Linked DNA regions of Homo sapiens: region 1 is linked to region 2. Evidence: fine-mapped expression QTL. A gene starts in region 2. The other region holds a variant in brackets. All regions are shown on one strand. Distances are from middle to middle.

Region 1 (2,785 bases), 110 kb after region 2:
TCCTTACCCACACTCCTGCCAGAGTAAGTTTTCCAAAATACAGTCTGCCTAAGTCACTCCTCTGCTTAAAAATAGTCCAGTGAGTCAATAAATTACTGTGCTGGAAAGCTTCTCTTTGCCCTCCAGATCCACTCTCCACCCTTCCCTGCCCCGCGCTCCACCCAATGGGAAGCTGACCTGCATGGACAGCATCAATGGTCTCCCTTGCCCTCTGGCTTCTGGTTGGGTTTGGCAAATAACGAGCACTGCAGGGCGACTGGAGAGAGGGAGGACAGAAGTGTGTTTGTTTACTTCCCCAGCTCTCTCTTTGTGGGTTGCTGTGGGCTCTGATTCTCAACCGAAGGCCTTAGTTCCTCTCAGGCAGCCCTGTATACACAGCCCCTGCCTGCCCTTGCCCCATCTAGCGTGCAGGGCCAAGGCAGATAATGAGAATCGTCAAATCCACAGAATCTGGCTGGCACCAGCCCCAGGGTGCTGCACCAGGCTTCATGGTTTCCCTGTACCCTGTCCACTACCTTGGTAAATAGCGTGTTTTAAAAATGCTTCCCAAGCAGGATGGCAAGTGTGTTAGTGTCTGAAATAATGAAAAATGTTGTGTGCTCAGCATATGGGATATGTGGTGCTAGCAGGAGCCACCAGAGATGAAGCTGAACAAAGGGTAGGATAGGGCACAAACAGCCTAGAGGAGCAGAATGTGTGTCCTGAGGAATTAGTGAAGGGCTTTAAAGGTGGTAAAATAATTAGGAGCACATTGACTAGGAAAGTGTCAACCAAATCCTAGAGGCCATCAACTGTCAGGGTAATGAGTTTTGGAGCAGCAGAGGGTAGAATGGACTGAAGAAGAGAGAAGTAAAACACAGAGGTACGGAGCATTTCTCAACAGTACCTAGCACACAGCTTTAGATATATGGGTGTTGAATATATCCTGGTCAGACTGAATTGTTGAGTCTGTGTGACAGCTTGAGTGACATTTTTATGCCGTTCACCCAATTCATATTTTAAAATTTCTTTTGTTAAAGACCTTAAGGTAGTATTAACCTGAAAGAATGTATTTACTGTTAACTAAATCTGGGTCGTTTGAGATCCCCTTAAATAACCTTTGTGGTAACATTGGAATGAACATTTATTTGATGTCTGGGAAGTAATATCCCAGTGGAACTCATTTTATTTTGGGTTGTTTTTAATATGGAGCTGTTAATATAGCATTTCCAATAAGTGACCTTATA[T/C]GTGAAATCTGTGTTTAATTACTAATGTTTTAGCAAGACTAGTAGAACTGTACTATTCATTATAAGTCACAGATTTAAGAACTTGTCAGGAAAATATTTTATGATTTGATTTATGCCTGGGGATCCAAGAAAGGCAAGCAGTACTTGAGTCTTTATGAGATGGTGAACATACTTATTCCTACAATATTTTTGGCTTTTACCAACCCTATTATATAATGAGTAAACAATATCTTTTTTGGAATTTTTCATCCAAAATATTCCCTAGCTAGAGCTTTACTTAGGAAAATATGATTTCCTAAGAGATCCTTAAGCCTGATAATTTGAACCAAACAACACAAAGTGCATACTGCTTCTTTGGAAGTGTTTTCATAGCTTTCCTTTTAGTGTTTTCCTTTTCCCTTTAAAAAAAAAGAACTTTTATTGGGTGTTTTATTGTGCAAACTATACATGTTTGTCATATAACATTAGAAATTATAGATGATCATAAAAGAAGAAAGTAAAAAGTGTTTGTAATTCCATCACAATTAGAAAACAGAGGTGAGCACAAAATAAGGACTCACATGTAACCTATCATACGGAAGAAGGTGATAGGGATACATGAGGTGCTTCCAGCTTCCAGCAGGGTTGGTATGTTCAGTGGAAAGTCTATCCCAGCTCTCCTAACCAAGGTACAAATTGCTCCTGTTTCAGGGTCTCCTTCCCCTGGGCCCCTTGTGTCTGTTGCTCTTGACAACCAAAGGTTGCCATTGCCTCACCACAGCCCTTGTCCCTCTCACCTGATGCTCATTGATTTGTGAGCTACTTGAGGGCCAGATCCACATTGTATTCACAGGGCACTGAGCACAGAGCCTTGAACTTAGCAAGCTCTTGGTATAGTTTGTGTGAGAAAATGAACGAATGCATGTGAGTTCATGAACATCAGTCAGAAATGCGAATTCCTCATGAAAGAAGCTAGATAAAATGAAATACTTTTGAAAAGCAGAAGTGTAGCTCTACTTGCAATATAGAGGGGGAAAAAAGTAAAAGACTTCATAGAGATATCGAAAGAATGTTGTGGTCAAGCAGATCACAGCAGCAGATGTATTTGATCCAAGAGGCGAAATGCTAACTGTGAGTGATGATAGCTGGGCTGCTGTATTTGACTGGATTCCTGGTCGTGAAAGGAAGTGGAGCATCAGTGGGGAAAACACACAGATGTCCATAAAGAAAATGCAGGCTTTGTCTGGGGTAAGACAGAAAGCGCTTCTGCCTAGGCCCCTTCTTTAAGAAGAAAATAACTTTTATTGGATGTTTTATTGTAAAATTATACACGTTCATTGTATGACATTAGAAATTATAGATGATGGCTGGGCGTAGTGGTTCATGCCTGTAATCGCAGCACTTTGGGAGGCCTAGGCGGGCGGATCACCTGAGGTCAGGAGTTCAAGACCAGCATGGCCAACATGGTGAAACCCTGTCTCTACGAAAATACAAAAACAGGCCGGACGTGGTGGCGAGTGCCTGTAATCCCAGCTACTTGAGAGGCTGAGGTGGGAGAATCGCTTGAACCGGGGAGGCAG
Region 2 (2,785 bases):
GCTCTTGGCAAAGCTCTAGCAGTAACCGGAACGCAGCAACCACAGAGAAGGCAGGAGAACAACTTTAGGGGTGAACAGTCCAGGCTCTAGAGAGAGGCAGATAGGGGTTCCAGTCCTGGCTTCTCCACTCATGGTGGGCAAGTTATCCTCCCAGCCTCAGATTTATCCTAGGTGAAATGGGATAATGCTCGAACTACTGCTGCTGTGAAGATCAGATAGACACAAAGAGCTTGGTACTCGACAGACACCCAAGGAAATGGCGACTGTGGTAGGACTTAGGTGGGGGCATAATGCAGCCTTTAAGATCAATCTCCTGGCCCTTGGCTTATCCTGCTGGGACTAGGACAAGGACAGGGACAAACATTTCCTTTTACTTCTCCTCACCTCCAGAAGTACACAGGCAACTCACCCCAGTCTCTTGTCCGCGACACTCTTCCCCCCAACCCCAAATCCCAGGCCTGGACACGGCATGATTCTGGCACCTGTGGAGCTCTCAGTTCCCCAAGCCCGGCTCAGACAAGGAGGCGCCAGGTACCCAGTTAAGAGGCGCTCCTGCAAGATCCTCGTGGTCCCTGGCTGCCAAAGGTCCCAGGCCTCTGGGCAGTGAGCGCTCCACAGTCCCTTGTGTGGCGTCTATGCTGCGCGGAGGAGGCGCAGGCCAGGAGAGGGCCATTGGTCTCCACTATGGTCCTGCCTGGCCAGGAGTGCCTATGGCTCTTAGGCACGAGCCAGCGGTTCCGGGCAAACCTCTGTGTGGCTGCTGGGCCTGACTTTGCAGAGCTGGCGCCCGGGTCTGGGCGGGGTGGGTGGAGGCTATGGGAGGTGGGGCCGGGGGTGGGCTCGGGGGGAGCGACGGCATCCCTGCTCCGGCTCCGGCTGAGGCGGGGCGGCCAGGCTGGCTTGCGGCGCAGCGGCCGCCTTTCCCCAGTGCGCCTGCCGGCGGCGGCGGTGGCGGCGTCGGCAATCCCGGCTCTTGGCACAACGCCTGGCGGCCGGCCCAGGGCGAGGAGTGGCTTCCAGGAAGCGGGCGGAGGAGCGTTCCAGCCGAGTCCCGCCGTCGCCGCGGCCCCGCGCGCTCCGAGCGGCCCGGGCCTGGCCCCACACGGCGTCTCTTCGCGCCCCCGGCGCCTCCAGCTCAAGCCGAGGGCGCGGTGCCGGCGCGCAGGCTGACGGGCGCCTGGGCGCGCCGTGCACTTGCCGGGCGGTGCAGGTGGCGGCGCGCGCCCTCCGCCTCTGGGCCGGGGCCAGCGCAGCGCTCTGCGCGCCCGGAGGGGGCGGGAGAGGCGGGGCAGCCCCCGTCCCAGCCCCATTTAACTTCGCGGCGGCGGCGGCGACTGCGGCGCCGCGGGCTGGAGGCCGGCGTCGGGGAAGGTCCTGGTGCCGGATTCCGCACGAGGTGTTGACGGGCGGCTTCTGCCAACTTCTCCCCAGCGCGCGCCGAGCCCGCGCGGCCCCGGGGCTGCACGTCCCAGATACTTCTGCGGCGCAAGGTGGGTGCACCGAGCTCGGCGCAGGGCGGCCCCTCAGGGGTCGGGGGAAGGCGCTCCCCAGAGGGAGTAAGACTTGGAGCAGTGGCCTCTCTAAGCAAGTTGGGGGTCTCCAAGCAGAGTCGGGGCGTGCCACGCGGGCCCCAGGGGGCCTCAGGACTGGGGTGCTCCTCACTGCTGGGCACCTCGGGTCGGGCGCGCTTCGTGCCGTCCCGGAAGGTTCAGGGAGAGTCTTTCGGCGGCAGTTCGCGGGCTGAGGGGCGTTCTTGATTATGGGGGAACTCCACAGGGTTGGAGTTTTTCAGGATTGGGAGTTACTAAGCAGAAACCTCGCGGGTCCGAAGGTCCGGCCGGTTGACCACTGGGTAGCGAGCGCCCAGAACGCCGGGGGTTGAGGCGACGCGCGATCGTGGAAAGTGGGCGTGGGGGTGACCGGGACGCGGCGGAGGCACTGGAGGAGCGACTTCGAGGCAGCGGGTAGTCGGAGGAGTGTGCACTCGGAAGGCTGGTGCGAGCAGGCGAGGGTGGCGCAGAGTCCCAGGGCCCCGCACTGGCCGCCTCCCTTCAGCCAGGAGTCGCCGCCTCAGGTCGGAAACAGCAGCACATTTGCGGATCACATTAGACCAGGCCCTTAATGCCTTCTCCAGATGGAGAGAAGCCACCGACCCGCCCCCGGACACCAGCTCCGCCAAGGCGCCCGCGAGGCGAAGCGGGAGTCGAGTGTGACCTCGGCTTTTCCAGTCTCGACTCATACTGATTTCCCTGTAAATTGACAGGAAAAGTAAGGGAAAAAGTCCCCGCTTCCCTCCTGGTTTCAGCTGACCTCTGCTGGCTGGCCCTCACCTACTTTTAGGAGATTGTGTTAGGCTGGCTCAGGGGCTGTGTCCTCCAAACCTCCCTGAACTTAGCTCTCAGGCGTCTCTCTGGGTGTGGGTCCCGGACCTCGAGGGCGCACGGTGTCATCTAGCGAGGAAAGCCTTGAACTATCAGAAGATCTGCGTTTCAGCCCTAAAATGTCACTATCTTGCTGTGTGACCTTAGGCAGGTCCTTTCCCTCTCTGGGCGGCTTTGTTGTCTTAGACTCATTTTTGCCGCGAGCAGCAGAAGCTAGCCTAAACCTTGGCTCTGTGCTGGCTTCCTGAGTCAAATGCCAATAGCGACACCCTGCTGCTGACAGATAGGCTTGGGCAGGGATATCTCAGCTTCTGAAGAGCTGGAGGTATGAGATGCCCACTGGAGACAGGTCCAGCCCTCGCCTGACTTTGTTGTGGACCTTCTAAAGGGAGCCCAGTTAGCCT

Which allele goes with the higher level. Alleles are on the strand shown, and positions count from the first base shown. SD is a standard deviation of normalised expression in the study named.
As copies of C replace T in region 1, the expression in skeletal muscle of the gene that starts at base 1,337 in region 2 goes up (small effect, 0.19 SD a copy in GTEx).

What was found. PIP is the estimated chance that this variant, and not a neighbour inherited with it, causes the effect.
Region 1: its variant is the best candidate, but not a certain one, in a credible set for the expression of ADAMTSL3 in skeletal muscle (GTEx, PIP 0.76).

What each region holds. Positions count from the first base shown.
Region 1 is chr15:83,764,243-83,767,027 of GRCh38, forward strand. All of the region lies in intron 3 of ADAMTSL3 (ADAMTS like 3), which reads left to right. Among named protein-coding and RNA genes, the nearest start is that of ADAMTSL3, 110 kb to the left of the region's middle. The variant T/C (reference allele first, on the strand shown) is at 1,227.
Region 2 is chr15:83,652,787-83,655,571 of GRCh38, forward strand. ADAMTSL3 (ADAMTS like 3) reads left to right here and starts at 1,337. Exons shown (of 30, transcript NM_207517.3): 1 at 1,337-1,490.